Homo sapiens: one gene and its partner. The protein of the gene in region 2 interacts with the protein of the main gene of each other region in a pairwise test. Each region holds a gene or a part of one and is shown on either strand. Other genes may lie near its edges.

The links. The genes of interacting proteins can lie anywhere in the genome.
Region 1: the proteins of FAM124A (region 2) and ZZZ3 interact in binary tests that used the Homo sapiens proteins (3 or more experiments, as listed by UniProt).

Annotation. Positions count from the first base shown.
Region 1 is NC_000001.11:77,681,090-77,684,689, forward strand, and holds the start of ZZZ3 (ZZ-type zinc finger-containing protein 3), read right to left. Parts: upstream 1,570-3,600; 5' UTR 1,496-1,569; intron 1-1,495.
Region 2 is NC_000013.11:51,281,221-51,284,909, reverse strand, and holds the end of FAM124A (protein FAM124A), read right to left. Parts: coding exon 3,654-3,689; 3' UTR 671-3,653; downstream 1-670.

The DNA of each region.
Region 1 (3,600 bases), on a different chromosome or scaffold from region 2:
CTGATTGCCAATATTGTGTTGGTACCCCATTAAAACAACACTTTCTCCCCTTCATTTAAGAAACAAAAACTAAACCAAAATATGGAAATATCTGGAATGATACACAGCAACCACAAAGGCTGGTTACAGAGATTTAAGACTGAGGAATGGAACTTTGTGGTACCGTGAAACAAGCACTGTGTTACTCTATACTATATACCTCTCTGTATTATGTATAGGAAAAAAAAACACTTTTGTAGTTTTAAAAAACAAACTATGAATAAATTAACTAGTCACCTGATTCGTTTTGTAATTAACTCCCCACTCCTTATTTAGTACTGCAACTACTAAATAAAATCCAAATACTACTTAAGAATACGAAAAAACAAAGGTATACTGTAAATTCACTTCTGAGACATTAGGGAATTGGAGAGAAATATTAAATTGATTTCAAACTCATTTAAGAAAAATAAAGCTCAAACTCTGATGCCAAAATTTATGAGTTTGCTCTTTACTAAAAAGTTGACCTGAGGCCGGGCGCGGTGGCTCACGCCTGTACAGTGCTGAAATCCCAGCACTTTGAGAGGCCAAGGCAGGTGGATCACTTGAGGTCAGGAGTTTGAGACCAGCCTGGCCAACATGGTGAAACCCCGTCTCTACTAAAAACACAAAAATTAGCCGGGCGTGGTGAAGCGCGACTGTAATCCCAGCTACTCGATACTCGAGAGGCTGAGGCAGGAGAATCGCTTGAACCCGGGAGGCGGAGGTTGCAATGAGCCGAGATCGCCCCACTACACTCCAGCCTAGGCGACAAGAGCGAGACTCCGTCTCAAAAAAAAAAAAAAAAAAATCACATGAAACAGTCTGTTACCTTAAATATATAACCTAAAACAACCATCCCTAAACTTCAAAGATGGCAACCTCAGTAACACAGTAGTAATTAAAACCCTACCGATAACTGAGTTAATAGGCACGTACAAAATGATGAAAAGCAGGATTTTATTCTGACCACAGGTGTTGTCAGAGACATAATGGGCCCTCCAAATACTGCCAAAAGTTACTGAAAATACGAAGTCAGGGTGATGAGTAAATGACACCCAGAGAAAATAGATGGGAGGAGTTCTGTTTCAGGAGACTGGAGTCAGGTACTGCAGCAGAAAACGCGACACAATAGTTAACCGGTCTGGAATACTTTAGAAAATGGCAAGAAGGGAAAAACTGACAAGAACATCTTAAAGTAAGAGGAACGGTATCCAATGGAATCATCAGGTCTGCGCGAGCACGGCTCCCGGACTTCCAGTGAGTGGGACAGGGTGGAACTATCACTGCGTGGGGAGAAGGACCTGGCTGAGGGGTGCATATGCTTTTGCAGGTGGTGGAGCGCCCGCAGGGGGATGGGGAGGGCAGTGTTGCCTCAATGGGGTTACTGTATTCCCTTCAAGACTATGGGAAGCTGATGCAGCACGTATCCCGGCACCAAGAGGCACTCGCCCCGGGCCCCTCCCTAACGACTTGCCTTGTAGAAAGAGTTGCAGGTCCCAGGCCCCCGGAACCCAAGGCTCCGCCATCCAGGACAACTGCTCTGCCAACGAGGTCCCGCGAGAATCGAGAGATCTCGCGATACAAACCCACTCGCATCTCGCGAGCTTCCACTAGACCCAACATGGCGGTACAGAAAAAAATCAGTATTTCGGAACTTAAAAAGCACTTCACTAACGGAGTAGTGAACATTTAAAACACTGAGACAGTAGGAAGTCTTTCCGCTTTATACGTCTCCTCCTTTCCCCTTGTACAGAAAAGCAGAAATCTTAAAAACCTCCGATTACCACGATTATACTACATAAACAGAGCGCAGTGCGCTGCCCCAGGCAGCCTCCCTGTCACGTGGAAACATTTTCGGCGTGCCCGTCACGTGGGCCGCTACTGAGCGAGCGCGCTCCCGACGCCCTCCCAAAAGCCCTCCCCGCCCCCCCTTTCGCCCGCGCACACGTGCGCGCGCACCCCCGCCCCACGTGGGGGCTTCGCCGTCGCAGCCGTCGCAGCCGTCGCAGTCGTCGCCTCCAGCCCACCCCCTCCCGGTACTTGGCTCCAAATCCGGGTCCCAAGCCGATCGTTTCCCACCCCCATTCCCTCCCCCTTCATTCTCCCTCCCCCGTGTCTGGCCCTCACCACGTGTCCCGAGCTCTTGCTCACCTTTCACGCGGGGTCGGACGCAACGGGCCACTTGGGGAGGCGCCGCCGCCGTGGCCGCTCTCCGCCCCCGCCACGGCACTTGCTCGGGTGGCCACCGCTGCAGGAAGCTCGATAGCGGCGCCGCGGCGCTTCCAGGTGGGTCCCCGCCTCCCGCTCCTGCCACTTCCCGCAGCACCAGCGGCTCCTTCCGGTCCCCTCCTTTCTCCTCGTTGGGACTGGCGGGCGGCGGCGGCGGCGGCGACCGCTGCTGCTGCTGTTGCTGCTGCTGCAGGCGCGCTCACTACACCGCCTGCTGGTAACCGCGGCCCGTGCAGCGCCCGCGGGTCGGGCGCCGCCGAGGCCCTCCCCGGCCAGTCCCTGCCCCTGGGCGAAGTTTGGTCTTCCGAGGGCGGGTTGCAGTCCATCCCTTGCAACCGTCCAACCTGGCCCTAGCAGAGGAAAGGCGTCCTCGTAGCTCCGCCATTGGAAATCGGCTTCATCCTGCCCTTTGTGGCCTCCTGAGAGATTTGTAAACCCCACCTCCCTTAGCACTGTGGTCTCAAGCCAGGAGAACATCCATACATGTATTTATGATCGTGCTTCTGCCTCGCCTCGTTCACCTCTGGCTTGTACCACAGCACGCAGGCTCGAACCACTTCGGGCCTTTGTGCTTGCCGATTTCTCTGGCAGAACATTTCCTCCAGATTTTTTTTAACTCCTCGATGTTCGATGCATATTTCAGGTCCCTTCTCAGAGGGCTGCCCAGACCACTGTATCCAAAAAAAGTACACCTGCACCATTGCTTTAACTCTTCACCTGCTTTTATTTCTTCATAACAGTTACAACTTCCAGACCTTATTTGTCAGTATCCTCACCACCAGAAATGTAAAATTTTTAAAAGCAGGGACTTAGTAAACTGTTTTGCTCATTGCTGTATCCCCAGAATTGTGTCTGGCACAAAGCAGTGCTCAGTAATATCAAAACAGATCTACCAACTATATTGAGCATGTAGGAAAATAAAGCCCAACACACATTAATGAAGATAAATAACTTCATCATTTATGAGCTGTGGAAAAACAGCTAAACCTCCTTCCGTGGCTATAAAGATTATGTTCCAAAAATATAAAATCCAGTGGTAGAAGCCGTTAACTGGGGCTCTTCTTTGACAATTGTCCAGTGCTGTTTCATTACTTTTGTTTTCCTTTGCAACACTATTTTTTTTTTCGGGCAAGTGGATACGTGTTGTGCCTTCTTTTATGTTGCTAATAAAAGTTATTAAATGTTTTAAATGGTGTTTTGTATTTTAGCTTTGAGTTCAACTCAAAGTAACATCTACTTCAAGAAAAAGGGTTACATGTTTTTAACACATCAAGTATTTATTGAACATACTAGTGTTTCTGGGTGGCAGTATGTCAAAAAAAAACGGGGGTGGGGGAGGCCGGGCGCGGT
Region 2 (3,689 bases):
CAAAAAAAAAAAAAAAAAAAAAAAAGGAAAATAGGGAGGTAGGAAGATACCTCCGTTTCTCCTGATTTATTTGTGGCCGGGAGCTCATTCTAAGTAAAGTAAACATGTAGTCTCACCTGGGAACGCACTGGGTGGTACAGTCCAGTTCACTCTGCTGTGACTGTTCCCCTGCCCTCAGACCCGGAGGCTCAAGGAGCAGCCACTACTAAAACCCAATTTATTCAAGCACACATCAACCCTCCCATGTCACAAAAGTCTCTGCAGTGGCTCACCCACTGCTTCCACCAGTTCCTCTTATGCTCCTTTTAACCAGTTGAGGTGACCCAAGATGATTTCTGTAGGACTTGCCAGGTGAGTTGGGGACAGACAGAGAAAGATTTGCTCTTTAAAGCAGACACTAGGTGGTGTTTAGTGTAGGCCAAAGTGGGACCGTGAGCAGTAATTTGGGGTTGAGGGGATCTTACTTGGAAAAGAGGCAAATGAGGGATGGGATGTAACTCAACCAGAGCACTTACCAACACATCCCCTCCCTGGCAATGCTGGAGGAAGCGTAAGGCCAAGGAAACAAGAGACACGGTTCCATTAAGCGACAAAAAACCAGGGCTACAATCTAGACTTCTTACACTACAGAGCCTAATACATAGATATAATTTATGAGACAACCTCAATATTTTTCAATTGAACACATTTATTGAGCACCTACAATGTGCCAGCATCTTTTACAAGGATAATACTCCAAACGAGTCAGGATCCTCCAGAGAGTATTGGAAGCCCTTCTGGATGAGGAAGATGCTACTGGAATGGCCAGGAATGGAAGGGAAGGCTTTGGTAAATGTGTTCCTGTGATTCCCTCTCCGTGGAGGGACTGCCATTTCCATGTGGTCTACAGTGGGCATCCTCTCCCTGCTCACCTGATGCTATGGGAACATTTTGCATTTCTTGCTTTCAAATGTTGTCTATGATGTCCTTTAGGGTCACTCAGTTTGGTAGATTGGACTGTGATGAGGGCGGGTCCAGAGTTGTACTCTAAAGCAGTCCTAGGCGAGCATGTGAGCACACTGAAATAAGGACACTGATTAGGGAGAAAGAAGGAGCCAGCCCTCGGCCATTAGCCTTTTTTTTTTTTTTTTTTTTTTTTTTTTGCCTCACTGACTTTTGTTACTGATGAACTTGCTTCCCTGTTCATTGGAGGTGGTATCATCACCTCTGAATTATTTTTCTCCTTCTTCCTAATGTTTGCAGGTTGCTTTTCCTCATCAGCTATTGACTGAATCACATTTCTGGGCAGAAGGTGGAGTGCTGGTGGCTTTCCAGGAATCAGCTCTGCAGAAAGAAGCTCCTTCCTGTTCTGAGCCCTGTGGTTCTGAAGTCATTGGTCTAACCTGAGTAGCCCACTTTTTTGGCATGACACACCACAGCAGCATTAGGCGGGAGACTTAGAATTTTTGTTGTTGACTGGAGCTGGGATGTTGAATCAACCTCAGGCAGCAGCCTAGCTCAAGGGATAATAAACTATGACCCTTGGGCCAAATCTGGCCCACCAGCTGTTCTTGTAAATAAAGTTTTATTGGCTGGGAATGGTGGCTCATGCCTGTAATCCCAGTGCTTTGGGAGGCCAAGGTGGGTGGATCACGAAGTCAGGAGTTTGAGACCAACCTGGCCAACATGGTGAAACTCTGTCTCTACTAAAAATACAAAAAATTAGCCAGGCATTGTGGTGCGCACCTGTAGTCGCAGCTACTTGGGAGGCTGAGGCAGGAGAATGGCTTGAACCCAGGAGGCAGAGCTTGCAGTGAGCTGAGATTGCGCCATTGCACTCCAGCCTGGGCAACAGAGCAAGACCCCGTCTCAAATAAAAAAAAAATAAAGCTTTATTGGAACTCAGCCATTCCCATTCATTAACATATTACTCATGGCTGCTTTCATACTACAGTGGCAGAGTTGAGTAGCTGCAAGAGACCATATGACTGGCAAAGCCTAAAATACTTATTATCTAGCCCTTTTCAGAAAGTTTGCTTACTCCTTATCCTGAATTAGGAGACTATATTTTTAAAAATTTAAATTAGAGCAGAATATTACATTACAATTCTGAGTGTTAGAGAGTCCAGAATGCTTGGGGCAAGGCCTAAGGCTGTCATTACAAGGATGGCAAAGACTTGAAGCTTCAGCTGAAGACTGATGGTTGGTAACTGCTGCCTGGAGGGTCGTGTTGGAAAGGACTCTGAGGCTGTGTCTGGGCTGGCGTGGGCATTTCCAGAGAGATGAACACTGTGCCATGATTAATTCAAGGAGCACCAGCCTGGGAATTGAGCTTGGCAAACCCATGCTGTTCTTCCTCAAAGGTAAATAGTATCCAGGGACAGCTTGGCACTGCCCCCGATGCCAGCCTTTGGCATTGCTGAGGTTGGGGCTGTAAACAAACATACTCTTACTGAGGTGAGAGGGAGGTGAGATTCAAATACCATTCACGGTGTGACAGTAGCAGATAACAGGCAGGAAAAGCCAAGGTTGCTGGGCTCCAGCGTTAATTAAAGCTCCCATGCAATCATGTGAGGCTGGCAGTGCACTGGTGTTTGTTCAGGAGAGCGTTTCAGGTAAAGTTTCCCGTTTTGGGGAGAACAGCATTATTAATCTGTGTGATCAAAATGCTGGCTAAAATGTTCCAAATCATTTAAAAATGAGAAACATAGGATGCGTGACCCAGCATGGTCACTGCAGAAAGCAGTATACAGTGCGGCTCTTGTCATTTGAATATAGTCCTTAGACTGTGGTTTTTGAAAGTTGAAGGATCTTAAGACTACCTACCCATGATGTCTAATGGCCTATAATTCTGTAATCCCAACAAATGCTCTTCCTCAGTGATCCAAATAAATTCAGGTAGTGGAGTGGTCTTCAGAAGCCCCTCATCCATTCCAGTGAAATGTGCTGTTGAAAAGGTGTATGCAAATCTACTTTCTGGAACTCACATATTTTAAATGCACCAAGAGTCTGTTACTCATGCTAAATCTTTATGAAACACATTAGCAACTTTTGTATAAATCCAGATTTGCAGGTGTTGCATGGCTTCAAGATGAGGAATTACCTGTAGTCTGATATACGTTTACTTCTCAAGCTGACTTTTTCCATTATAAGCAGTGCTTAAACATCCCTAGGGCCACTGTTCTCTGGTAATGTAAATATATATGGAGAATCCAGTAAGGTGTGCGTTACGTTATTATGCAGTAATCCCTCATACAAGTCACTTACTATCTCTCCCACATTCAACGTTTTGGCCTTAATTGATTTGCCTTCATACCATGGAAAAATTGCCAAATTGGTTCTGGCTGACTAGGTTTTCTTTTCATTTCAAATAATTATATAAGCCATTTAAATTGTATAAACCCACTAAACCATACCTCAAATGCTGAATATTCAAAAAATATATTTTATGACAAGTTTGTTGAGAATTTATTTGCATAAAAATGCCAGTATTTTTCTGCTGTGTCTCTAGAGATATACCACCCCCCAGCTAAGAGTGGGTGGTAGGCAAATGTGCTACGGGCTCCTGGGAAATGGATCATGAAGAATGTGGTGTGCTCAGTGGCCAGAGGGGCAGTGGGGCCTGAGTCTGTGTCTCTGAGTTTGTGTGTTTCGAGAACAAGAGCAGAGGGCATTCAGATGTAGAATTCCTCCATGTCGTTATCCCCGGG